2 separate regions of the Homo sapiens genome follow, and region 1 is linked to region 2. The links come from fine-mapping of genetic effects on gene expression. A gene starts in region 2. The other region holds a variant in brackets. All regions are shown on one strand. Distances are between the middles of the regions.

Evidence for each region. PIP is the estimated chance that this variant, and not a neighbour inherited with it, causes the effect.
Region 1: its variant is fine-mapped to the expression of DNM1L in T cells (TOPMed, PIP above 0.99).

Annotation. Positions count from the first base shown.
Region 1 is chr12:32,756,832-32,767,252 of GRCh38, forward strand. No RefSeq gene overlaps it. Among named protein-coding and RNA genes, the nearest start is that of YARS2, 6.1 kb to the left of the region's middle. The variant A/G (reference allele first, on the strand shown) is at 4,203.
Region 2 is chr12:32,670,172-32,687,345 of GRCh38, forward strand. It overlaps DNM1L (dynamin 1 like), which reads left to right and starts at 9,130. Exons shown (of 20, transcript NM_012062.5): 1 at 9,130-9,294. The coding sequence starts at 9,193. RefSeq lists an enhancer at 4,023-5,222 and a silencer at 9,278-9,687.

The DNA of each region.
Region 1 (10,421 bases), 83 kb after region 2:
CCTCAGGCAATCCAGTAAGGGCTCTGGAGCCGGGATTTCCTTTCAGAGTCATCCTGAATTGAGGCCAGGGGGCAGACCTTTAGACCCTCTTACTGACTGCTCATTAAATGTGGGATGTTTCTGGGGAGGAAGCAAAACGCTGGGTTAAGGCTTTTGGAGAGTGAGATGTGCAGGAAGGGACTCAGCTGTGAGCAATAAGCAACCAACACTCCCAGCAGCTGGGGGATTGAGTGCCTTGGTCCTGTGACTGGGATCTGGGCCATGTTCCAAATCATTCCCTACAGGACTTTTCCATTTTTTAACGTTATAAAGTTATCTAACAAAATGAAAACTTATTTTAATAATTAGTTTCTTTGCATGTATAATTATCAGTGAATTAGTTTCTCATTGCCAAATAGTAACTTCAATAGGATTTTGAGATACTCATTCAATAGGCTATTAAACATACTCCCAACTGCTTAAGAAAATAGTGTGTTCAAAATATCTTAAAATTTGCAATCATAACCTGTTGATCTTCAGTGTTTTTTTTTTTTTTAAGTGTCACTCTGTTGTCCACACTGGAGTGCCGTGGCAGGATCATGGTTCACTGCAGCCTTGAACTCCTAGGCTCCAGCGATCTTCCTGCCTCAGCCTCCCAAGTAGCTGGAGCTACAGGTGTGGACTACCATGCCTGGCTAATTTTTATTTTTTGTTTTTGTAGAGACGGGGGTCTCACTGTATTGCCCAGGGTGGTCCTAAACTCCTGGCCTCAAGCAAGCTTCCCACCTCTGCCTCCCAAAGTGTTGGGATTACAGGCATGAGCTACTTCGCAAGGCCAATCTGCAGTCATATGGTCCACCACTTTGATCAGGGACAGATTTCAGTAGGTATGGCAGGAAATTCTCCTGAGCACACGTAAGGAAACTCACATCTGGGCCACTTGTCACTTGAAAGCCAAAAACCCAAGAGAAGAGCTGTAGTGAAAGTAAAGTTAGCTTTATTCAAGAGACCAGCAACCCTGGGGGATGCAGTGAGCTAGCGTTCAAAGACCACCTCTGGTTTTTAAGGGCAATTAAGAGAAAGGATGATAAAAAGATTTTTGTGAAACGTGTGCAGTCTCAGGTCGGCAGTAAATCATTGCTTTCTTGGTCAATATTTTGTGGCTTTCTGCAGGTACCATCAGCCTATTCTTATTAGGTCGGTCAGCCCATTCACAGAGAGGCTGATCTAGGTATTTTCTTTTATCTCTGTTCAAGATCCTGTTTTTCTGAGGCTGATTTTAGTGAATGATCTACAAAATCAAGCAAAGTAATAATTGTATTCAAGTAAGCAAGCTTTCTTCTAACATGGAATCAGTACTGTCACACACACAGCAAATGGTGCTTTCTATTTAGTACCTTAATACATAGGGCACACATGTGTTTCTGGTGACACACAACTCTCTGGCTTTTACAGGTGTGTTAGTAATTTGAAAATCCTACTTGTTACAACAGTATGCCAGGGTTACTTGATGTCAGGGTTACTTGATGACCTGTGCTTAATGGAGAAGAATTTTGTGGATAATGAGAAATAGAAAATTTCTACCTGGGATTACAATTTATTATAAAGTCTTTTAAAAATAGATTTGAGCTCTGCTTTGTCTCTTAAGTTTAGTTGCATCTCATGAAGAGGCAGCAAAGTCTGATATAGAAGGTGGTGTCGGGCCGGGTGCGGTGGCTCACGCCTGTAATCCCAGCACTTTGGGAGGCTGAGGTGAGCGGATCACTTGAGGTTGGGAGTTTGAGACCAGCCTGACCAACATGGAGAAACCCCATCTCTAATAAAAATACAAAATTAGCCGGGCATGGTGGCGCATGCCTGTAATCCCAGCTACTTGGGAGGCTGAGGCAGGAGCATTGCTTGCACCCACGAGGTGGAGGTTGCAGTGAGCCGAGATCATGCCATTGCACTCCAGCCTGGGCAACGAAAGCCAAACTCCGTCTCAAAAAAAAAAAAAAAAAAAGAAGGTGGTGTCACAGGAGGTGCTAGATGAGACTTGACAGTAGCTTAATGACAGTAACAAGCAACAAGTTTGGAAAATACAGTGAGATCAATTACTCTCTTTTTATAATTTGTGTTGGTATTATAGGGGAAATTGGGCTTTGTCCCAAAGACAGGAGCAATAAAGAAGATGGGACTTTCAAACCTTTGGAATTATATCCGTGGCTAAAATTTTATGGGATTGCACCCATGGTTTGCATTTGGGTTACAAAAAAGTGACCAAGTTAATTCTTGCTGTTTTTATTGGCTTAAAAAGTGAGTGAACAAGGGTTAAAAAGTATTTTTAAAAATATGATTTATCTCAACTGTAATAACTTGAGGTTAACTGGCCTTGAATTAGAGGCACATGTGTTTTACAGTTACCTTTTCCTGCAACAAAATGCCACATAAATGTTCTCTTTGAAGGGATCCCTGTTTTAAATGGCTTGGTTTTCAAAATGTAAACAAATATAAATATAATAGAATTCAAAAGACACAGAGTAAACAGTAATGGTATTTTAACTGATCTCTACTTAACTTTGAAAATTTCTCTATCTCTAGCATTGTATTAAATATATATTCAGATTACAGCAGAGATCTGATTAGGGCTGAAATATGAGCTGCTCGAACATCACAGCAAAATGACAGCAGAAAGAAGTCTGAGGAATTCTGATCATTATAATCACTATAAAATATAATTCTTATTTGTGTTTTCTGTTTTTTTTTCCTTGGAGAAGATTATTGGTGACATCAGATGCAAAAGGGAGTGGATAGGAACAAGAAATAGAAATTGTAAACCTATAATTGTAAACCTACGTAACCATGCCCGGTTACGGCCGGGCATGGTGGCTCACGCTTGTAATCCCAGCACTTTGGGAGGCTGAGGCGGGCAGATCACCTGAGGTCAGGAGTTTGAGACCAGCCTGACAAACATGGTGAAACTCCCGTCTCAACCAAAAATACAAAAATTAGCCAGACGTGGTGGCGGGCGTCTGTAATCCCAGCTACTCAGGAGGCTGAGGCAGGAGAATCACTTAAACCTGGGAGGCGGAGGTTGCAGTGAGCCGACATAGCACCACTGCACTCCAGCCTGGGCAACAGAGTGAGACAACATCTCAAAAAAAAAAAAAAGAAAGAAAAGAAAAAGAAATTGTAGGTTATTGCAGAAAGGCCATGGCTTTTCTTCCAGTTGAAGTATTTCCATGGCTTTTCTTCCAGTTGAAGTATTTCCATGACATTCCTATCTCCTATTACTTGGGAAGAATCATTTCTAAAGATTGATTTCATGTCTTTGTTGTCTTTGTATAATAATTTATAACTCAATCTGCCTCATAATTACATCTTCTCACACATGACTTTCATGTTGCTGTTTTTCTTGAAACCTACATCTAAAGTCCTAAAGATCCTCCCACTCTGCCCATCCTTACCTGCAAGGCAGTTGCTCCCCTTTCATTCCAAACTAATTTCTTTCAGGAAGCTCCTCTGCATTAGGTAGGGCGAAGGAAGGATGCTTTTACTGTCCAGGTTCATCATGCCCCTAAAATGTATTAAAATGTAAAATCAATAATGCTTACCCTTCCCACACAAAAAAATGGAAAGACCATTAAGTTCTATTAAAATTTATAGAAATTTATGTGAGCTAAGTGTCTTGAAACCTAGTCTGTGTCCCTTGATTGAAGTGGCTTTAATGCTTTTTGAGCTGATGGTCATATTAACATCCAAAAATTTTTTATAAGAGATTAGCTTATTTTAAGATGCTGATTGTAGGAGGATAATTAGACAAAGAAACATGTTACTAGATATGCATTTCCTTTCTATATTAGAGTTTAGAGAAGGATACCCCAAGTTTCTTTCTTTCTTTCTTTTAGGCTGCTGTTGTAGCCAGTGGAATAACCTGGAGGTCTCAGCATTGCCTTAACTTTATGCACCTGGTCCCATACCATATGGCTGGATAATGTTTTGAGATATTTATGGGTTTAAAAATCTTTCATTTTCCAGGCCGGGTGCGGTGGCTCACGCCTGTAATCCCAGCACTTTGGGAGGCCGAGGTGGGCAGATCACGAGGTCAGGAGTTCGAGACCAGCCTGGCCAACATAGTGAAAACCCGTCTCTTCCAAAAATACAAAAATTAGCCAGGTGTGGTGGCACACGCCTGTAGTCCCATCTACTCAGGAGGCTGAGGCGGGAGAGTCGCTTGAACCCGG[A/G]AGGCAGAGGTTGCAGTGAGCTGAGACCACGCCATTGCACTCCAGCCTGGGTGACAGAGTGAGACTCCGTCTCAAAAAAACAAAGAAATAAAAAATCTTTCATTTTCCTCTCTTCATTTTAACTGTCCATTTGTAGCAAGTTCTGTGTGTCAGTGCCTTGGGGAAAGTACAAGTCGGGGAGGAATACAGAGTCATCCTGGAACTCTTTGTAACTTTTGTTTCCAAAAGTCAAAAGCCTAAGATAGGATGAAGTTTAAGGAAATAAGCTTAGAGAAGAGAAAGAGGTAGGATTCTCCAGCTTAAAGAGAGTGCCCCTGCCCCAAACCTGGGCAAGGGAGCCCTGGCTATGGCCCTGGTTTGCCAGAGGAGCTGTGCATTGCTCCCTGGCCTCAAAGGGACGACCTCCTGCTACACTTCCAGCCTGGGGCTCCTGGCTTTGCCTAAGGTTCCTCTGCTTCATTTGAGGCAGGAGAGCCCCTGAGTGCCAGCTGGAGGTCTCAGAGAACCACTGAAGGCTTGGCCAACAAGGATGGCTAGAATGATCAGAACCAATTGGAAATTAGAGATATTATTTCCTGGGGCACGTTGATCAAATTTTGGTAAAACCCTAGAAGCGGGAAGGAGGCTAATAATGATGGAGAAACAATTTCCTACCATTCTAGTGGGTTAAGGACATAGATGTTTGCTTATTCATTTAACAGATATTTATTAGAATTATTTGATCAGTCAGGCACTGTTCTAATGGCTTAGGATATATTCATGGATGAAAGAAAGATTCCTGTCCTCATGGAGATAATATTATTCTATGAAGTTATTTTTCTCTGAGCAGTTTTATTCTTCACTTCCTCTTTCTTCATTTCCTCTTTCTGATTGGGCTCCTTTTCCACGCCCAATTTTTGGAGCAGAGAGAGAGTGACTCCTAGGTAGCTGTTGAAGAACATGCAGATTAGGAGGGGGCTGTGGGAGAGAAACATTTGTTGAGAATATGACCAAGGGAAAGACATCCCTTGTAGGAGGGTGGTGATTGAGGTGTAGAGTAGAATTCAAACAGCTTTTCCCCTTTCAATATGTAATTGTGTCTCCCTTCACTCCTGCTGCAGTGAATTTTTCTCCTCGCAGAACCCTTTCCCCAACATCCACCCCTTCTGCTCTGAGCTTGGTGATAGCCGCCGCAGTCCCCTACCAGCATGTTCTTTCCCAGGCCATGTTGTCGGGACTGTAATTCAGCCATGACTGGCAAGCAACGAATCCGCCTGGCTGTTTGCTAATGTGATGAGAAAAGCAGGCTTCCCTCTTAGAAAGAGGATCTTGGAGACACTATTGTGATTGCATCTGAAAAGCTTAGATCAAATGGATAATGTCTTCAGTGAAGATCATTTTGGAATTTTCCTATTTATCAAGTTACCTTAGTAATTTTCTGGTCTCTCTGACAGAGTAGAAGTGAATCAATCAACTCATCATTGTCCCTCCATCAAGGCCAAGTGAATTTATATCTCCATTGGAGAAGAAACAAAACAATAAGCAATCATTCTATGTTTTGTAGAGCAATTCTATTTTGATTAAAACTATTTTTGTCTTTTTTTCTCAGTGTCTTCAATACGGACTTTATGTTTTTCTGTTATAAGCACTGACTGGTTAGTTACCAAAATGAGAAATAAGTCTGGAAACATCTCACTCATTAATGTTCTGTAACATCATAAGGGGAACAAATACCTTGTATTTACATAATGTTTGCAGAAAAGTCAAATATTACTTCCTTCATCCTCACAACCATAACAAAATGTGCTTCTGAGTCGTGGTCCAAAGACCATGGGACTAGGAGTCACAGACATGAGTAGCTATCTCAGCTTAACCTTGACTACCTGTTCCTCCTTAGATAAGTCATTTAACACACTAGCCTTGGTGTCCTCATTTTAGAAGTAAATGGGCTGGGCTTGGCGCGGTGGCTCATGCCTGTAATCCCAGCATTTTGGGAGGCCGAGGCAGGCAAATCACGACGTGGTCAGGAGATCGAGACCATCCTGGCTAACACGGTGAAACCCTGTCTCTACTAACAATACAAAAAATTAGCCAGGCATGGTGGCCGGCACCTGTAGTCCCAGCTACTTGGGAGGCTGAGGCAGGAGAATCACTTGAACCTGGGAGGCAGAGATTGCAGCAAGCTGAGATCTCGCCACTGCACTCCAGCCTGAGCGACAGAGCAAGACTCCATTTCAGAAAAAAAAGAAAAGAAAAGAAAAAAAAAAGTAAATGGGCTGGATTAGATGAATTCTAAAATCTCATTCACCTCTACAATTCTGAAATGCCTGTTTGCTATCACAGTAGTCAAAAGTCCCATTTATTGTTTCTCAGCTTTAACTTCATTATTTAAGCCACCACACCAGGGAGGAGGTTAAAAATGTATTCATCGGCCAGGCACAGTGGCCCATGCCTGCAATCCCAGCACTTTGGGAGGCCAAGATGGCGGATCACTTGAGGTCAGGAGTTTGAGACCAGCCTGGCCAACATGGTGAAACCCTATCTCTACTAAAATACAAAAAATAATTAGCCGGGCATGGTGATGGGCGCCCATAATCTCAGCTACTTGAGAGGCTGAGGCAGGAGAATCCCTTGAACCTGGGAGGTGGACGTTGCAGTGAGCAGAGATCATGCCTCTGCACTCCAGCCTGGGTGACAAAGTGAGACTCCCTCTCAAAGAAAAAAACAAACAAACAAAAAAAAGCCTGGGCGCAGTGGCTCACGCCTGTAATCCCAGCACTTTGGGAGGCTGAGGCAGGCAGATCACTTGAGGTTGGGAGTTCGAGACCGCCTGACCAACATGGTGAAACCCCATCTCTACCAAAAAATACAAAAAATTAGCTGGGCATGGTGGCACACACCTGTAGTCCCAGCTACTTGGGAGGCTGAGGCAGGAGAATTGCTTGAACCCAGGAGGCGGAGGTTGCAGTGAGCCGACATCATGCCACTGCACTCCAGCCTGGTGACGGAACAAGACTCTATTACAAAATAAATAAATAAATACATCTATTTTCTCCTCTACTGAGGTTTGCTTAAGCAGTAGAAGCCAGTTTAAGTCATGCTTACATGGCTGTTATTAGAGGGAAACTGTATTATGACAAGTTTTGAAAAATTAAGATTGAAGATTTAGAAAGTGATAGTTGACCAATGAAACATATATCATATTTGCAGAAAGATCCAGTGAAAATCCAAGCAGCTTTGCTCAGATCCAAACAGTTTCAATTGCCATTGATCTCATTCAAAGCTGCCCGTGGGTGGGAGACCGACCTGGAAGGGTGTCACTAACAGAGATAGCAAATGAAAACAACTCCTCTGTATTCTCATAGCTATTTTTTTCTAAAACCAAAGGAAATCTTAGACACCCATGCCCCTTCCCATTGTATGTCTCACGTAACTCTTCTCCAAGCACAGTTTAAGGAGGTTCAGGGGAGTGGCAATCAGGGACACAATGGTGTCAGATGGTGACCAAATATCTAGCACATAGCACCAACTGAGACACCTTTCCAATGGACTTGTAACATGATGTCACACTATATATTTGAGAAAGCTTCCAGTAAATAGGTGAATGTAGCCCTGGTTTATATGCCTCTTGTCTCAGCCTAATTATTTATATGACCCCTTTTATTCTCGAAAATGTCCTGTTTTGGGAATAAATTTTACAGACATTCTATCTAACATTTCTACTCTGGAAAACAAGTTAATTTTAAAAATGGGTATTTTTGAAACAGGGTCTTGCAATGTCCAGCCTGGAGGGCTGTGGCATGATCACGGCTCACTGCAGCCTCGACCTCCCAGGCTCAAGTGCTCCTCCCACTTCGGCCTGCTGAGTAGCTGAGAGCACAGGCATGTGCCACCATGCCTGGCTAATTTTTTTTTAAATTTATTTTTTGTAGAGACAGGGTCTCACTACATTACCCAGGCTGTTCTCAAACTCCTGACCTTAAATAATCTTCCCTCCTTGGCCTCCCAAAGTGCTGGGATTACAGGCACTGTGAGTGAGCCACTGTGCCTGGCCTAAAAAAAATTTTGAGTTAAAGATTTTTAATGTTTTGTGTAAGATTCTTTTTTACGAATTTTACTTTATTTTAGATTCAAGGAGTACATGTGCATGTTTGTTACATGGGCATATTGTGTAATCGTGGGGATTGGGCTTCTAGTGTGCCTGTTACCCAAATAGTGAGCACTGTACCTGATAGGTAATTTTTCAACCATTGCCCGCTCCCATCCTTCCCGCTTTTGGCATCCCCAGTGTCCATTATTTCCCTCTTTATGTCCATGTGTACTCCTTATTTAGCTCCCATTTATAAGTGGAAACATGCAGTAATTTTATGTTTCTGAGTTAGTTTACTTAGGATAATGTTCCCCAGCTCCATCCATGTTGCTGCAAAGGACATGATTTCATTATTTCTTATGGCTGCATATTATTCCATGGTGCATATACACCACATTTTAAAAATCTAGTCAAGCATTGATGGACACTTAGGTTGGTTCCATGACTTGGCTATTGTGAATAATGCTGAGTCTTTCTTATGGAATGATTTCTTTTCCTTTGGGTAGATACTCAGTAAGGGGATTGCTAGGTCAAATGGTAGTTCTTTTTTTAGTTCTTTGAGAAATCTCCATGCTGTTTTCTATAGAGATTGAACTAATTTACATTCCCTCTAAAAGTGTATAAGCATTCCCTTTTCTTTTCTTTTTTCTTTTTTTTTTTTAAGATGGAGGTTCACTCTTGTTGCCCAGGCTGGAGTGCAATGGCACAATCTCAGCTCACTGCAACCTCTGCCTTCTGGGTTCAAGTGGTTCTCCTGCCTCAGCCTCCCAAGTAGCTGGGATTACAGGCATGTGCCACCACGCCCGGCTAATTTTGTATTTTTAGTAGAGACAGGGTTTCACTATGCTGGTCAGGCTGGTCTCGAACTCCTGACCTCAAGTGATCCACTTGCCTTAACCTCCCAAAGTGTTGGGATTACAGGTATGAGCCATCATGCCCAGCCAAGCGTTCCCTTTTCTTCACATGCACGCTAACATCTGTTGTTTTTTGACTTTTAATAACAGCCATTTTGACTAGTGTAAGATGATATCTCACTGTGGTTTTAATTTGGCTGCCTGCATTTGTCTGATGATTAGTGATGTTGAACATTTTTTTCATGTGTTTGTTGGCTGCCTGTATTTCTTCTTTTGAGAAATGTCTGTGTCCTTTGCCCAGTTTTTAATGTTTATTTTTTTTTTTTAGTTTAGTTTTTTTTTCTTGTTGAATTGTTCCTTGTAGATAGATTCTGGATATTAGTCAGCAGCATAATTTGTAAATATTTTCTCCCATTCTACACATTGTCTATTTACTCTGTTGATTATTTCTTTTGCTGTGTGAAGCCTTTTAGTTTAATGAAGTTCCATTTGTCTATTTTTGTTTTTGTTGCATTTGCTGTTGGGGTTTTCACCATAAATTTTTTGCCTAGGCCAATGTCCAGAAGATTTTTTCCTAGGTAAATGAATAAGCAAATCACACATACACACAAATCCCAATGGCCAATATAATACAGAAAATATTCAGGCTCATAAGTATTCAAAGAATTGTGGTTTAAAGGCACATTTTCCTCATGTAAAATGTTTTGGTGTTTGAAGTGACACCAAAGTTTGGTAACGACAACTAATAATAGCAACAAACACTAGTGAATTCTATGTGTGCTAAGCATTGCATTAAATGCTTTACATGCATTATTTTACTGAATTCTTACAAAAATTCAGAAAGCAATTATTTTTATCTAGCTCACAGATGAAGAGACTTACTAATAGTTGAATCCAGATATTTCTGACAGCAAAGGACATCATCTTGGCCACTCTGCACAAGATCTTTATGTAGTTTTTCATTCAAGAGGTATTTATTATGTTTTGGACCTATATTAGGCTCTGCGAATTTCACTGATAAGAAGACATATGACTCTTGTCCTTGTAGAGCTTATAGCTTAGCAAGATCTTACAGATGGTACTGGTATTGCTGCTCAGGTTTGCTGTGAGATGAGCACATCAGGCTGTCTTAGTCTGATACTATTCATGCTAGTTAGATTGGATTGACATTTATTCCTAACTCCTTCTATGTGCTTTTCTGTGCTGCAGGTCCTAGAAAGCTGAAAGCTCCATTTCCTAGATCCCCTTGCAGGTAGGGTTCTAAACATGAATGGGTTCCTTGAATTAGATATACTC
Region 2 (17,174 bases):
GTTTGAGAACAAAAGACAAGGAAGTTAGTAGTCTAAATTTTTGAAGAGAAACTCAGAGAAATTCATTGTGTCTTACAGTAGGAACCAATCCTTGGGAACCTTGGTCTTGGACTTCTAGCTTCCAGAACTGTGAGACAATACATATCTGCTGTTCTAAACCAACCAGTCAGTGGTACTTTGTTACAGCAGCCCCAGGAAACAAATATATTCCACCACCAAGTTTATGCAGAAAGAGATTCATTCATTCATTTGACAGTCTTGCTCGGTTGCCCAGGCTGCAGTGCAGTGGTGCAATCTCGGCTCACTACAACCTCTGCCTCCTGGGTTCAAGCAATTGTCCCACCTCAGCCTCTCGAGTAGCTGGAGCTACAGCCGTGCAGCTCCATGCCCAGCTAATTTTTGTATTTTTAGTAGGGATGGGGTTTTGCCATGTTGCCAGGCTAGTCTCGAACTCCTGGCCTCAGTGATCTGCCTGTTTGGCCTCCCAAAGTGCTGGGATTACAGGCGTGAGCCACCACACCCGGCCCGAAAGATATTTAATATGGGAAATTAGATGCTTATAAATCTGTTAGAGTGCCTGGGAAAAACAGGTGTTAGCTAGACATCCAGGAATTACTTCCCGAACAATGTCACAAAATCAGTACACCAGAAGTTACTGTATATTTATCATAAGCGACAGCTGGCTCTCGGGATCTTTTTATCTCGACTGTTATCTGAGAATCAGGAAAATATCATCAGAACCATTAAGTCCAGAACCACGTCATGCTTCCCATGATCTTGCGTCCCAGAGTAGGTGTCCCTTTTGTTTGTCATAGTGTACTAGGGAGCCTTTAGATCTGCAAAGGTAGCAGCTAACCAAGGGCTAAAAGTGAAATTTCTCTTCACCATCAAATATGAGCAAATTGAGTTTGTGTGAGGGAGACAAAAAACAGAAAAACAGAGAAGGGAGATATGAAAAGCTTCTAAGAATGTCAAACAACATTTGAGAACCTGGAGTAGAGTTGTAAAGAGGCTAATGAGAAGGCTTGAGAAATGGGGCAAGTGAAGTAGTTTAAATGCAGGGATGTCTAACATATAATTTTCAGTTGTCACTGCTGTAATTTAAAATCACTATTGCTGGGCGTGGTGGCTCATGCCTGTAATCCCAGCACTTTCAGAGGCCAAGATGGGCGGATCACCTGAGGTCAGGAGTTTGAGGCCAGCCTGGCCAACATGGCAAAACCCTGTCTCTACTGAAAATACAGCCGGGCGCAGTGGCTCACACCTGTAATCCCAGCACTTTGGATGTCTAGCTAACACCTCAGGGCGGATCATCTGAGGTCAGGAGTTCGAGACCAGCCTGACCAACATGGAGAAACCCCGTTTCTACTAAAAAAATACAAAATTAGCCGGGCGTGGTGGTGCATACCTGTAATCCCAACTACTCGGGAGGCTGAGGCAGGAGAATCACTTGAACCCGGGAGGCAGAGGTTGCGGTGAGCTGAGATCATGCCATTGCACTCCAGCCTGGGCAACAAGAGCGAAACTCTGTCTTTCAAAAAAATAAATAAACAAAATACAAAAATTAGCTGGCGAGTGGCCCACGCCTATTGTAATCCCAGCTACTTGGGAGGCTGAGGTGGGAGAATCCCTTGAACCCAGGAGGCAGAGGTTGCAGTGAGCTGAGATTGTGCCACTGCACTCCAGCCTGGGCTACAGAGCGAGACTTGATCTCAAAAATAAATATATAAATATAAATAAAATAACTCTATTATCTCAAATAGTTTCTAAAATATGCCACAAATTTTGATGGTAGGAGGATAAAAAGAAGGGCTACGTTCTATTGGGGTGTGGGTGTGGAGCAAAGGGAAGAAATCAGGACCATATCTTAACTCCCAAGTTATTTTGTCGTTAACTGCTCTTAATTGTGTTGTCACACTGCCCTCTCATGGTCCCGTCAGTATCTCACCAGATTCAATTTCTGGCTTCTGAACCATCTGGCCAATTCCACCATCTGCAAACAATTTCCTGCACCTGCTAACAAAGTATGTGTTAAGCTTGAGGCCTGGGGAGTAGCAAATTGATTAAAGCTGTTTACTTTATCATCTTTGCAAAACACGGGCAGTTTCCAAAATATGACAAAGAGGCTTCCCCAACAGAGCTGTATATTTTATATTAACATTAGATCCCCACTAACCGCTATGATTTGAAGGTGCAGATACCGGCATCTTGGCTGTGATTGATGATCAAAATGTTGGCATAAAATGATATTGGACACATGCGATAAAAACAGTCTGACCTTTTCCAAGATCGATTAATTTCCAGTTATTAATTTAATCCAAAATAAACTTCCTCTAATTCGGGATTTTAAGTTAGAACAAAGCCAGGCTACTCCCTAGCTAAGTAACTTGGCATCTATTCTAATGAGGAGTCCTATGCCAAGCCAGACTCATATGTGTTGGTGAGATTTGATTGCCAGTCCTGGTTGCAATTATATCAATTCAGAGCTGCTTAAATCCTTGTTATTCCAGATTTTCCAAATAAAAAAGAAAAGAAAACCCCATATCCAGTAGACTAATATTATGTAACACGCTTCATACGAGGTAGTGGGGGAACCCAGCTAAATAAGATAATCACTTCTGCCCTTCGTGAGCTCACTATTGGTGAAGGGGGAGGGCATGTTAGTGCCATATCCACGGTTCCTCCCTACTCTCCAGCAAAATATACTGCCTGGCTAAGATCCGTATGCCTAACAAGTACTTCATCAATATGTGTTGAATTAATGAAGAAAGGAATAAATACACGAGGCAGAATGTGTAGCGGTTGAGAGTTTGCTGCCGGGCATGGTGGCTCACACCTGTAATCCCAGCACTTTGGGAGTCCGAGGCGGGTGGATCACCTGAGGTCAGGAGTTTAAGACCAGCCTGACCAATATGGTGAAACCCAGTCTCTACTAAAAATACAAAAATTAGCCTGGCGAGGCGGTGTGCGCTTGTAGTTCCAGCTACTGGGGAGGCTGAGACAGGAGAATTGCTTGAACCTGGGAGGCAGAGGTTGCAGTGAGTTGAGATCGCACCACTGTGGCGACAGAGTAAGACTGTTTCAAAAAAAAGAAAAAAAAGGGGGTTTGCCAAAAAGCCCCTTTTCATCCCATCTCTGCCACATACTAGCTGTGTAAATTTACCACTTCACTTCAATCCCTGGAGCCTCCGTTTCTACATCTCTAAACCTACTTCACGAGGCTCTGATAAAATGCTTAGTATAGTGCCTCACATACAATAAGCACTTAAATAATAGTTCAATAATATTGTGTGAAAAGGGCAACAAGGAAAAATGGAGAAATTCATATGGTTAACTATGGGGATTAGAATTCTGATGTTATGTGCTGTACAGCACATGTACATTTAAAAATATGGGAAAGTTGGCCAGGCGCAGTGGCTCATGCCTGTAATCCCAGCACTTTGGGAGGCTGAGGCGGGCAGATCACGAGGTCAGGAGATCAAGACCATCCTGGCTAACATGGTGAAACCCCATCGCTACTAAAAATACAAAAAATTAGCCGGGTGTGGCGGTGGGCGCCTGTAGTCCCAGTTATTCGGGAGGCTGAGGTAGGAGAATGGCGTGAACCCAGGAGGCGGAGCTTGCAGTGAGCTGAGATTGCACCACTGCACTCCAGCCTGGGTGATAGAGCAAGACTCTGTCTCAAAAAAAAAAAAAAATATATATATATATGTATATATATGGGTAAGTTACTGAATTTGGGGAAGTTCTTCAAGGTGAATAAAGAAGTTTATTCTTGCAAACCAATTTATTCCATGAGATAGGAAACATGATCTTTGGAGACATTGACTCACATGCTTACAGTTCTATAACCAGAGAGAGAAAATATTTTTGTTCAAATTCAGGTTAGGAAATTCTCAGAGAAGGATTCTAAATGGTCCTGCAGGTCCATCCCTAGACCAATCACCTTAACCAGGTGCAGTAGGCCCCTCCAATAAGTCCATGTCCTAATCCCTGGAGCCTGTGAACTTTATGTCTCAGGAGAGACTCTGTAGATGTGATTAAGGGTACAGGCCTTGAGACAGGGATATTATCCTGGGTTGTCCAGGTTGGCCAATCTAATGATGGGCCCTTAAACACAGAGAAGCTTTTCTGGGGGTCAGAGGCCTGATGACAGCAGAAGAGTTAAAGAGATGCGACATTGCTGGCTTTGAAGAGGTTGGAAGGAGGTAACCAGCAAGGAATGCAGGGGGCCCCTAACAAAGGCAAGGAGGTGAATTCCCTGCTAGAGGCTTTAGGAGGGTTTGCAGCCCTGGTGACACCTTGATTTTAGTCCAGTGAGACCTGTGTGAGACTACTGAACTATAGAACTGTAAAACAATACTTTTTTTTTTTTTTTGACATGGAGTCTCACTGTGTTGCCCAGGCTGGAGTGCAGTGGCGTGATCTTGGCTCACTGCAAGCTCTGCCTCCCAGGTTCACGCCATTCTCCTGCCTCGGCCTCCCGGGTAGCTGGGACTACAGGTACCCGCCACCACGCCCGGTTAATTTTTTGTATTTTTACTAGAGACAGGGCTTCACCATGTTAGCCAGGATGGTCTCAATCTCCTGAACTCGTGATCCGCCCGCCTCGGCCTCCCAAAGTGCTGGGATTACAGAAGTGAGCCATTGCGCCTGGCCACATTTTTGTTGTTTTAAGCCACTAAAATTGTGGTAATTTGTTAAGGCAGCAATAGGGAACTAATATACTAGAGAAGCAAGGCAGAAACCAGGTTCCTAGGTTTCAGTTCCTCCCCAGTTCTCTCTGCCTCATCTGCTGTGAGACAGCTTGCTGAATGAGATCCCCTACACCCTCCCCCACAGCACACTCACCTCATTCCACAGGAGTAAACTGCGTGAGAGAATGAAATAGACGATGTAGTGATAAGATGTAGAGCTCTGATTCTGCCTGAGCTCCTAGTTCCAGTCATTTTTTTTTTTGAGGTGGAGTGTCACTGTGTCACCCAGGCTGGAATGCGGTGACGTGATTTTGGCTCACTGAAACTTCCGCCTCCCGGGTTCAAGCAATTCTCCTGCCTCAGCCTCCCGAGTGGCTGGGATTACAGGCTCTCACCACCACCCCCAGCTAATTTTTGTGTTTTTAGTAGAGACGAGGTTTCACCATGTTGGCCAGGCTGGTCTTGAACTCCTGACCCCAACTGATCCACCCATCTCGGCCTCCCAAAGTGCTTGGATTACAGGCTAGAGCCACTGCGCCCAGACATTCAGTCATTTTTGAGGCAAGTTAGCTCAGAATTAAATTTCTGTCCTTACAATTAGCTATCCTGCCTAAATCATAAAGCTATGGTGAGAGAGGGATGGTTGCAGGAGAAGAGGTGTTTTTTGTTGTTGTTGTTTTTTTTTTTTGAGATAGAGTCTCACTCTGTTGCCCAGGCTGTAGTGCAGTGGCGCGATCTTGGCTTGCTGCAACCTCTGCCTCCCAGGTTCAAACAATTCTCCTGCCTCAGCCTCCCCAGTAGCTAGGACTACAGGCGCGTGCCAGCACGCCTGGCTAATTTTTTGTATTTTTAGTAGAGACGGGGTTTCACCGTGTTAGCCAGGATGGTCTCCATCTCCTGACCTCGTGATCCACCCACTTCGGCCTCCCAAAGTGCTGGGATTACAGGTGTGAGGCACCGCACCTGGCCGAGAAGAGGTTTTTTTAAAGGCCTTTTGATATCCGATAATGGTTTAATGTGATTCCCACAGGAAGCCACTGAAGAACACATTATTCTTAGATGCACAAAGACTCTTTTTTGTGGGAAATCCATTTAGCCACTTATTAGTTAAATTGATTTCCCACAAACAAGAGTGTTCTGAACTTAAAACATGAAAGCCGAAATTGGTTTTTTTTCTTCTTTTTTTTTTTTTTTAGTTGGAGTTTTGCTCTTGCCGCCCAGGCTGGAGTGCAGTGGCGCGATCTCGGCTCACTGCAACCTCTGCCTCCCGGGTTCAAGCGATTCTCCTGCCTCAGCCTCCCGAGTAGCTGGGATTACAGGCACGCGCCACACCAGGCTAATTTTTTTTTTGTATTCTTAGTAGAGATGGGGTTTCACCATGTTTGTCAGGCTGGTCTTGAACTCCTGACCTCAGGTGACCCGCCCACCTCGGCCTTCCAAAGTGCTGGGATTACAGGCGTGAGCCACCGGGCCTGGCTCTTTTTTTTTTTTTTTTTTTTTGAGACGGAGTTTTGCTCCTGTTGCCAAGGCTGGAATGCAATGGTGCAATCTCGGCTCACCGCAACCTCTGCCTCCCGGGTTCAAGCAATTCTCCTGCCTCAGCCTCCCGAGTAGCTGGGATTACAGGCGTGCACCATCACGCCCAGCTAATTTTTGTATTTTTAGTAGAGATGGGGTTTCTCCATGTTGGTCAGGCTGGTCTTGAACTCCCGACATCAGGTGATATGCCCACCTTGGCCTCCTGAAGTACTGGGATTACAGGCATGAGCCACCGTGCCCGGCCTTCTGTTTTCTTTAGAAGAAAACAAAAGCTCCATCAACAGAGGGGTGAGAAGCAAAGTGGGTAATATCTGACTATTATGTAATATTATCTTTGGTAGAAAGTCAAGAGACTTGGAATAAAACTGTTTTTTGGAGTTCTGAAATTTTTGTCTTATTTTATCTCTGAAAAATTTTTTTTTTGAAAATAATCAAAGAGGAGATGTTCACAAAACCTGTCAAGATGCCAAAACACCACTAATGGATCTTTAGGTCTTGGCTTACTTCATCCATTTGTTCACAGATATTTATTAAGCACCTGCCATTTGTCCTGCTGAACAAATCAAGCATGTTCCCCGCAGCCATTGTGTACAGCTAAGCAGGTGAATGGCACCCACTGGAGTTGCGTAGTGCACAACTTCCACTACTGCTGGTGGTTCTTGTCCTCATGGAGATTAAATTTAGTAACTTCTAGGAAGTCTTTCTCGAATCTCTATCCTCTTGCTCAGACTGGAAAAAGTGCTCTTATTATGTTTTCTTTTCTCTTTTCTCTTTTTTTTTTTTTGACACAGGGCCTCACTCTGTCACTTAGGCTGGAGTGCGGTGGCACGATCACAGTTCACTGCAGTCCCCACCTCCCAAGCTTAGGTGATCCTCCTACTGCAGCCTCCCAAGTAGTTGGGGCCACAGGTATGCACCACCACGACAGGCAAGCTAATTTTTTTGTATTTTTTGTAGAGACTGGGTTTTGCCGTGTTGCCCAGGCTGGCCTTGAACTCCTGACCTCAAGTGATCTGCCCGTCTCCTGCCTCAGCCTCCTGAGTAGCTGGGATTACAGGAATGCACCACCACGCCCGGTTAATTTTTGTATTTTTAGTAGAGACGGGGTTTCTCCATGTTGGTCAGGCTGGTCTTGAACTCCTGACCTCAAGTGATCCGCCTGCCTTGGCCTCCCAAAGTGCTGGAATTACAGGCGTGAGCCACGGTGCCTGGCCTCTCCTCACCTGCTTTAATTCTTTACTCAAATGTCACCTTTTTACTTTGAGGTTTACTTTTACCTTTGGAGGTTTGGAGTAGAGGAGGGATACTATCTGTCTAAAAAGAAAAACAACATTTAGAAATATAACAGTATGGGCCGGGCATGGTGGCTCAGGCCTGTAATCCCAGGACTGTGGGAGGCCAAGATGGGCGGATCACTTGAGGTCAGGAGTTCGAGACCAGCCTGGCTAACATGGTGAAACCCCGCCCCCCACCCGTCTCTACTAAAAATACAAAAATTTTCCCAGGGTGGTGGCGGGTGCCTGTAATAACAGCTACTTGGGGGGCTGAGGCAGGAGAATCACTTCAGCCTGGGAGGAGGAGGCTGCAGTGAGCCGAGATTGCGCCACTGCATTCCAGCCTGGGCGACAGAGTCAGACTCTGTCTCAAAAAAAAAAAAGAACGGTATGAGCAAAGAGTGAGTAAGGCAGTTATCAGATGTCTACTTTGCCAGGAATCAGGCTACAGCAAATAAAGGTTTATACATAATATTGATAATAAATGCCCAGCTCTTCCCCTGTAAAACTCCAATACTCTAAGATTTTTTTCATGAACACCGCCCCCCGCTGCTCCGACCCCTGCTTTTTTATTTATTTATTTATTTATTTGGTAGAGATGAGGTCTCACTATGTTGACCAGGCTGGTCTCGAACTCCCAGCTCAAGCGATCCTCCTGCTTCTGCTTCCTAAAGTGCTGGGATTACACCGCGCTCGGTCCTGAACACACATTTTGTTTGTTTGTTTGTTTGTTTACAAAACCCCTGGAGAACCCGCGTATTCTAACCTGGGCTGGTTTTTGTATTTTTGCAAAATAACACCCCACACATTCTCGTATCAGCGTGCAGATTTTTTTGCACCCAGTTTGGTTGTTTGCGGCCATAAGCTTTTCTTTAAGCCTTTCCAACCCGTCCTTCTAGAGAAAGTGTCTTCATAAGGAAGTCACACTGCTCACGCCTGTAATCCCAACACTTTGGGAGGCCGAGGCGGGTGGATCACTAGGTCCGGAGATCGAGACCATCCTGGAAAACACAGTGAAACCCCGTCTCTACTAAAAATACAAAAAATTAGCCGGGCGTAGTGGTGGGTGCCTGTAGTCCCAGCTACTCCGAAGGCTGAGGCAGGAGAATGGCGTGAACCCGGGAGGCGGAATTTGCAGTGGGCCGAGATCGCGCCACTGCACTCCAGCCTGGGCGACAGAGTGAGACTCCGTCTCAAAAAAAAAAAAAAAATAAATAAATAAAAAATAAATAAAAGGAAGTGACACTGGATAATTAAGAGACACACCATTGCGCCTTTAACACATATTCACACCCAGCACTGTCACATCCATCGTGCCTTGAGGACAGGCATAAATTTACGGCCTTCCTCCTGCGCTCCCGGCCTGCTCCTAGCCTTTGACTAGAGCCTGCGCAGCATCCCAGTCCCAGGCTAGGGCCCACCGGTGCCGCGCAGCCTCCTGGAAGCTGTGGGGAGTAGCGTTCCTCCGCTCCAGAACTACAACTCCCAGCAGGCCTTGCTCCTCTCCACCTCCCTCGCAGCGCATGGCCTGCCGGGAGGGGGCAGGTAGCCGGCGGGCCCGGTCCAATGGGTGCCGGCTTCCGAGGAGAGGGCGGAGGAGAGGAGGAAGGAGGCGAACTGTGGGCCCCGGCCCCATTCATTGCCGTGGCCGGCGGGCACTGGGGCCCCGTGTTTTCAGAGTCATGGAGGCGCTAATTCCTGTCATAAACAAGCTCCAGGACGTCTTCAACACGGTGGGCGCCGACATCATCCAGCTGCCTCAAATCGTCGTAGTGGGAACGCAGGTGAGAGCAGCAGGCGGCGTTCGCTCGGGCCAGACCCCGGCCGCAGGCCTGGTCGGTGCTGCGGCAGTGCCCACTCCCGCGCCAGCGCCCACTCCCGCGCCAGCCTTTGGGGCCTGTGGGAGGAGGGCCTTGCTGGGGGCCCCAGGGCTCTCCGGGCTCTGCCGCACCCGCCCTCCCGGGGCAGCGTTGCATCAAGGCGGAGAATCCGGGGCCCGGCCAGGGGCGGAGCCGGCGCGGCGGGCCTGGCTAGCCCGGCGGGTCCCGGGGACAGGAGAGGGAAGGATGGGGCCGGCGGGCGGAACTGGAGTCCGCTGGGACCGGGCGCGGCCTCGTCCGCGTGCCGCTGCCTCCAAGGGCACCTGGGGGACGCGCGGGGCACTCGGGTCTCGCTGGGCTCGGTGGGCTGGCTGTTCCCATCACTGTTGGCTTTCGTGAGACGGGTGTTTTATTTCCCTCCTTGCCTTGCCCAGGGACTGCGGAGTTAGTTTTGGAATCGCTCTGTTGAGGCTGAGAGACGCTACGGTGCGTGAGCGCCAGTGTTTTCCTGCAGTATAATTCCACCAGGTTTCGAGAACGCCGAAGCAGCATTTTAAAAAAAGAAAAACAAAACGTGTATCTAGAGTTCTGCGGGTGTTGGGAAGGAATATCCGATTTTTCTGCGTAGGCTGTGCTTTTTGTCTTCCACAGTTTTGTGATCGTGACCTAAATTGGGCATCAGTTTCTCTGGTCTTCTCATAGCTAACTCATTTTTTTTTGAATGCAGAAATGTTGGCAAAATAACTGTTATTTCTAGAGTGACAGAGGAGAAGTATAATTTTCCTTTTCTCTGCTACTTCGATTAGAGTTCAGAGAAACGGATTTTAGAAATTAGTATATTGATATTAAGTGCTTTCATTTCTTAATAGTATCTTTTCTATTGAGAAGGAGCGGTTTCCCCATCATTTTCCAGGAGGTACATAGTATAGGGTATAAGTGCTATCAGAAGGAACTTACTGTTCAAAGTATTAGTGGCTATCCAAACACTGGAAACTATAGACACCCTGTACTCGTTTGTTTGTTTGTTTGTTTTTTTGGCTTTTAAATAGTTGAAGCAATAGAAATTGTTTTAGAAACACATTTCCTTGGTCTGCGATAGGATTGGGAAAGATTCTGCTCAATCTTGCCTACGTATTCTAGTATTTGTAACAATATTTGTAATGTTTGGAGACTCAGAAGCATCAAACAAATTACGAGGATTATTTTTTATTGAACATAATTTTGTTCAGTCTGGGACATATAGTAAGTGCTCTGTAAATATTTTGAGTAAATATTGCTCACTCTAACCACAATGTTTTAAAACACTGGGACTTTTATCATCAAAACTAACCTGTTTTTGTAAAAAGTTAGAGATAATATAAATTAAGTCTTTGATAGTAAGTGATTCAGAAGTGTCTTCTAGCTGCACACTAGAAACTTTCCACATACTTTTAAAAGAGAGTCTCAGTGCTTTTTAAGCATGAGGAAGTAAAAGAATTAGGGATATAGTGTGTCAGCATAAATAGTTTAAAATCAATAAGTTGTTTTTTTCTTTTTACACAAAATAGAGTTTATTTTGGTCAGTAAACCTGTTGGCAAAATACAGAGTGGCAGGAGAGAAAAGTAAAGATCCCATCCTTCTGAAAGCCATTAACATGTGCAAAAACCATCCTAGTACTGACAGTTATATGCTATATTTGCATGTTGGTGTTTGAAATTTCTCAAGAGGTCAGTTTTTCTACTTGATTTAATGAGGGTTATTTCCATCTAAGTTCTTATTAGCTGATAATCAGTCTTTTACTCAAGTACAGAAGAAATACAGAATAGAAATTATCCGAGGTAGGCAGATCACTTGATTCCAGGAGTTCAAGACCAGCCTGGGCAACGTGGGGAAACTCCATCTTTACGAAAAATACGAAAATTAGCTGGGCATGGTGGTGCGAACCTGTAGTCCCAGCTACTCTGCAGGCTGAGGTGGGAGGATCACCTGAGCCTGGGAGGTTGAGGCTGTGGTGCGTGCAGGAGTGCATGTCACTGCACCCCAGCAGAAAGAGAGAGAATAGAAACTATTTTCTCCCCACACCGCCCCCCCCGCCCCTATTTTCTCCCCACACCGCCCCCCCGCCCCCGCCTTTTTTGTAGTGTGTTGGGGAAACAAGAATCTCTTCTTGGTTTGAATACTAGTATACCATTACTTTGTGATGTCTGCCATTTTTACTCTTTGGTGTTGTGTAACATATATGTATACCTCACATTTATATTTAATGAAGTAATTGTAGTGAGTGAGTTCCAGACATATAAGTGTTCTGTACTTAGTTCTGCCTAGTATACCTATCGGCAGTAATTGTGTCTTCAGAATACAGGTATAAATTAGCCAGGTGCTATGGTGTGTAGTGTGTGCCGGTAGTCCCAGCTACTTGGGAAGATTGCCTGAGTCCAGGAGTTTGAGGCTGCAGTGAGCTATGATTCTGCGATGGCACTCCAGCCTGGGCGACAGAGTGAGACCCTGATTCTTCCAAAAAAAAATTAAAAAACAACTTCAAGTGTAGTCTCTATCCTACATATTATCCATACCTTAAATGGCTTCAGTTTCTATCTTGTTGAACTTTTTGGAACAGTGATTCTCAGACTTGAGTGTGTATTAAGAATCACTTTGGTTTTTTTTTTTTGAGACCGAGTTTCGCTCTTGTTGCCCAGGCTAGAGTGCAGTGCCATGATCTTGGTTCACTGCAACCTCTGCCTCCCGGCTTCAAGTGATTCTCCTGCCTCAGCCTCCCACATAGCTGGGATTACAGGCATGCACCACCACGCCCGGCTAATTTTGTATTTTTAGTAGAGACAGAGTTTCTCCATGTTGGTCAGGCTGGTATCCAACTCCCGACCTCAGGTGATCCACCCGTCTCGGCCTCCCAAAGTGCTGGGATTACAGGTGTGAACCACCCCGCCTGGCCTAAGAATCACTTTGAAACTAAGTTTCCTGGATCCTGTCTCCAGAGATTTTGATTTTATAAGCCTGGGTTGGGTGAGGGACCATAGGTGATTCTGATACAGATGGTTCCTAGATCCTAATTTGAAAAACATATTAGTGAATCATTGGATTTTAAAATGCATGATACTGGAAAAAGCAGGAAAATTAGGGGAGGTTGAATCTATGGCATACTACCATCCAGTACCATGCTGACTTTGGTGGCATTCTTGCTTTAATATATCACTTCCCAGGCAACCATTGCTGACCCCTAAATGTTTTAAACTTTGGTTTTATGAAATGCCCAAGTAACACTCATTTGGGGGCTAGGGACTTGGAGGAGTGGAGGTGAGGGAATCCTGTTTACAGCTATCAGTCATTCACATGTTTTATGTGTTAGCTAAATAAATTGCTTTTATTTTTTCTAGTAGAGACCATCTGTGTGAAATGAACAGACACAGTGGGGAGAGAGAGAAGGCTGATGATACTTTTAGACCATGGTGTAACTTTGCAAGTAGAGGAGATAAGACTTAAAACAACTTTTGTGACTCAACTTGGGAAATTTAATCCTATTTCTTAAATTAAGAATTGGAAAGGGGAGCCCTCCAGGTATGTAATCTAAACTACCACCCAATATAGGTATCCGAATACAGATGACATTAACCTGAGACTCTGGCTTAGTGTTCCTAGTAATGTACTTTACACTTTTCCTTTTATTTCAGTGATTTCAGCATTCTATCTTCAGTAATTCAGACAAATGTAAAAGGAAAAACAATTTGGATTTTTTATTTTTATTTTTTTAGGGTCTGGCTCTTTCACCCAGGCTGGAGTGCAGTGGCATAATCCATAGCTCACTGTAACCTCAAATTCCTGGGCTCAAGCAGTCCTCTTGCCTCAGCCTCCTGAGTAGCTGGGACTACAGGCACGCATCTGGCTAATTTTTTTTTTTAAATTTAAAATCGCTGCCTTACTATGTTGCCAAGGCTGGTCTCAAACTCCTGGGCTCAAATGATCCTCTTGCCTTGGCCTCCCAAAGTGCTAGGAGTATAGGTGTGAGCCACTGCACCTAGCCTAAAAATAATTTGGATTTTATTTTATTTTATTATTTATTTTTTTAGAGATGGAGTCTTGCTCTGTTGTCCAGGCTGGAGTGCAGTGGTGCGATCTCAACTCACTGCAACCTCCGCTTCCCGAGTTCAAGTGATTCTCCTGCCTCAGCCTCCTGAGTAGCTGGGATTACAGGTGCATGCCACCACGCCCAGCTAATTTTTGTATTTTTAGTAGAGATGGGGTTTCACTGTGTTGGTCAGGCTGGTCTCGAACTCCTGACCTCATGATCCACTTGCCTTGGCCTCCCAAAGTGCTGGAATTACAGACATGAGCCACTGTGCTCGGCCTAATTTTTGTATTTTTAGTAGAGACAGCATTTTACAACGTTGGCCAGACTGGTCTCAAACTCCTGACCTCAAATGATCTGCCTGCCTCAGCCTCCTGCTGGGATAACAGGTATGAGCCACCATGCCCGGCCAGTAATTTGGATTTTAATTTCTAATTTGCAAATCAACTTTTAAAAATTTAACATTAAAAATACTGAAATATTCATGTAACACAAAATTCACCCTTATAAAGTATACACAACTCAGCAGCGTTTAGTATGTTCACAAAGTTGTACCACCATAGTGTAATTCCAAAATATTTTCATTACCTGAAAAAGAAAACTCCTGCCCATAAGCAGTCACCCCCGTTTTGTCCTCCCCCAGCTTCTGACAGGTTTTGATTTTATAAGCCCCACGTGGGTGAGGGTCCATCGGTGACTCTGATACAGATGGTTCCTAGATCCTAATTTGAAAAATATATTAGTGAATCATTGGATTTTAAAATGCATGATACTGGAAAAAGCAGGTATCACTGGCAACCACTAATCTACTTTTTGTCTGTATGGATTTGCCTATTTGGGATATTTCACATTAGTGGAATCCTATAATATGTGATTTGATCTTTTGTGCCAGGCATCTGTTGCTCAACATAATTCTTTTTTTTTTTCTTTTTTGAGACAGAGTTTTGCTCTGTTGCTCAGGCTGGAGTGCAATGGCACAATCTCAGCTCACTGCAACCCTTCACCTTCCGGGTTCAGGTGATTCTTCTGCCTCAGCCCGGATTACAGGCGCGTGCTACCGCACCCAGCTAATTTTTTTGTATTTTTAGTAGAGACGAGGTTTTGCCATGTTGGCCAGGCTGGTCTCGAACTCCTGACCTCAAGTGATCTGCCTGCCTCAGCTTCCCAAAGTGCTGGGATTATAGGCATGAGCCACTCAACATAATGTTTTTTAGGTTCATCCATTATGTAGCATGGCAGAATAATAAATATTACATTGTATAGATACAGCACAGTTTATTCATCAATTGATGAATTTTTGGGTTGTTTCTATTTTTTGGCTATTATGAATAAATAATGCTCTGCGAACATTCGTTTACAAGTTTTTGTGTGAATGTGTATTTTTTTTTTTTTTTTGAGATGGAGTCTCGCTCTGTCACACAGGCTGGAATGCAGTGGCGTGATCTTGGCTCACCGCAAGCTCCGCCTCCCGGGTTTACGCCGTTCTCCTGCCTCAGCCTCCCGAGTAGCTGGGACTGCAGGTGCCCGCTACCACGCCCAGCTAATTTTTTGTTTTTAGTAGAGACAGGGTTTCACCGTGTTAGCCAGGATGGTCTCGATCTCCTCACCTCGTGATCCACCCGCCTCGGCCTCCCAAAGTGCTGGGATTACAGGCGTGAGCCACCGCGCCCGGTCAGTGAATGTGTATTTTTGATTCTCTTGGGTATATATCTAAGCGTAGACTTGCTGATTCATATGATAATTCTTACGTTTAACTTTCTGAAAAACTACCAAAGTGTTTTCCATAGTGGCTGCACCTTTTTTTTTTTTTTTTTTTGAGACAGGGTCTCACTTTCTCGCCCAGACTGGAGTGCTGTGGCGCTATCTTGGCTTACCGCAACCTCTGCCTCCCAGGCTCAAGGCGTTCTCCTGCTTCAGCATCCTGAGTAGCTGGGATTACAGGTGCCCGCCACTACTGCCCGGCTACTTTTTGTATTTTTAGTAGAGGCGAGGGTTTCCTTATATTGGTCAGGCTGGTCTCGAACTCCTGACCTCAAATGATCCACCCACCTCGGCCTCCCAAAGTGCTGGGATTACAGGCGTGAGCTGCTGCGCCCAGCCGTGGCTGCACCATTTCACATCCCCTCCAGGGTTCAGGTTTCTGCACATCCTTATCAACACTTGTTGTTATCTTTTTTTTTTAAGCGCTAAATCATTCTGGAATTCTTTATTTGAAAAACAGCACTTTTTGACACCTATGCCATTTCCTTCTCTTATGGACAACTTTTTTCATAGTTTGATGTCCCTCTCTCTTTTTTTTCTCCATGAGCACTGCTGTCTACATTTTAGCATTTATTGACTATAATTTAATTCCTGCTTATGCATTGTTTTCTTGTGTTCTTAGATAAATTTATGTTTTTCTCTTTTTTTGTATAGATTATGAGCTGCTGCTTTTTTTTAACTTAACAAAATTGAGGTGAAATTTGCAGAACATAAAATTAGCCTTTTTTTTTTTTTTTTTTTTTTGAGATGGAGTTTTGCTCTTGTTGCCCAGGCTGGAGTGCAATGGCGCGATCTCGGCTCACAGCAACCTCCACCTCCCGGGTTCAAGTGATTCTCCTGCCTCAGCCTCTCAAGTAGCTGGGATTACAAGCATGTGCCATGCCTGGCTAATTTTGTATTTTTAGTAGAGACAGGGTTTCTCCATGTTGGTCAGGCTAGTCTCAAACTCATGACCTCAGGTGATCCGTCCACCTCGACCTCCCAAAGTGCTGGGATTACAGGTGTGAGCCACTGTGCCCAGCCAAAATTAGCCCTTTTATAAAATGTATAATTCAGTGTCATTTAGTGCATTCATAATGACATCTCTGTCTAGGTCCAAAACAATTTCATCACGAAAGAAAACTACTATTGAGCTGTCACTCCCTCTTCTTTCTTTTCCATTTAATGGCTGAGTAATATTCTGTTATATGTATAAACCACATTGGTTTATTCAATCACCTATTGATGAGCAATTGGGTTGTTTCTGCCTTTTAGCTGTTGTGAATAGTGCTGCTGTGAATATTGGTGTACAAGTATTTGAGTACCTGTTATCAGTTATTTTGGTATATACCTAGGAGTAAAATTACTGGGTTCTATGGTAATTTTGTTTAACTTTTTGAGCAACCACTTTTCCACAGCAGCTACACCATTTTAAAATTCCCACCAGCAATGTTTGAAGGGTGCAGTTTTTCTGTATCTTTGTCAACATTTGTTATTATCTGTTTTTGATTATAGTCATCCTAATGGGTGTGAAGTTTTGTTTTGCATTTCCCTAATGACTAATGGTGTTGAACATCTTTTCATGTGTTTGTTGGGGTTGTCTTATTGTTGAGGTTGTAAGAGTTCTTTTTTTTCTTTTTTTTTTTTTTTTTTTGAGATGGAGTCTCGCTCTGTTGCCCAGGTGGCCAGGCTGGTCTTGAACTCCTGACCTCAGGTGATCCGCCTGCCTTGGCCTCCCAAAGTGCTGGCATTATAGGCATGAGCCACCACACCCGGCCTTGTCTTTTTGCTTCCTTGTTAGTGTCCTTCAATACACAAAAGGTTTTACTTTTGGTTAAGGCTAATTTATCTTTTTTTTTCCTTTTATTGCTTTATGGTGTCATATCTAAGGCATTGACAAATCCAAAGCCGTGAAGATTTTTTTTTATTTTTTAATGTTTTTTCCCCTAATTATTTTATAGTTTTGGCTTGTATATTTAGGCTTTTGATCCATTTTGAGTACATCTTGGTATGGTATGAGGTAGGGGTTCATTTCATTTTTTT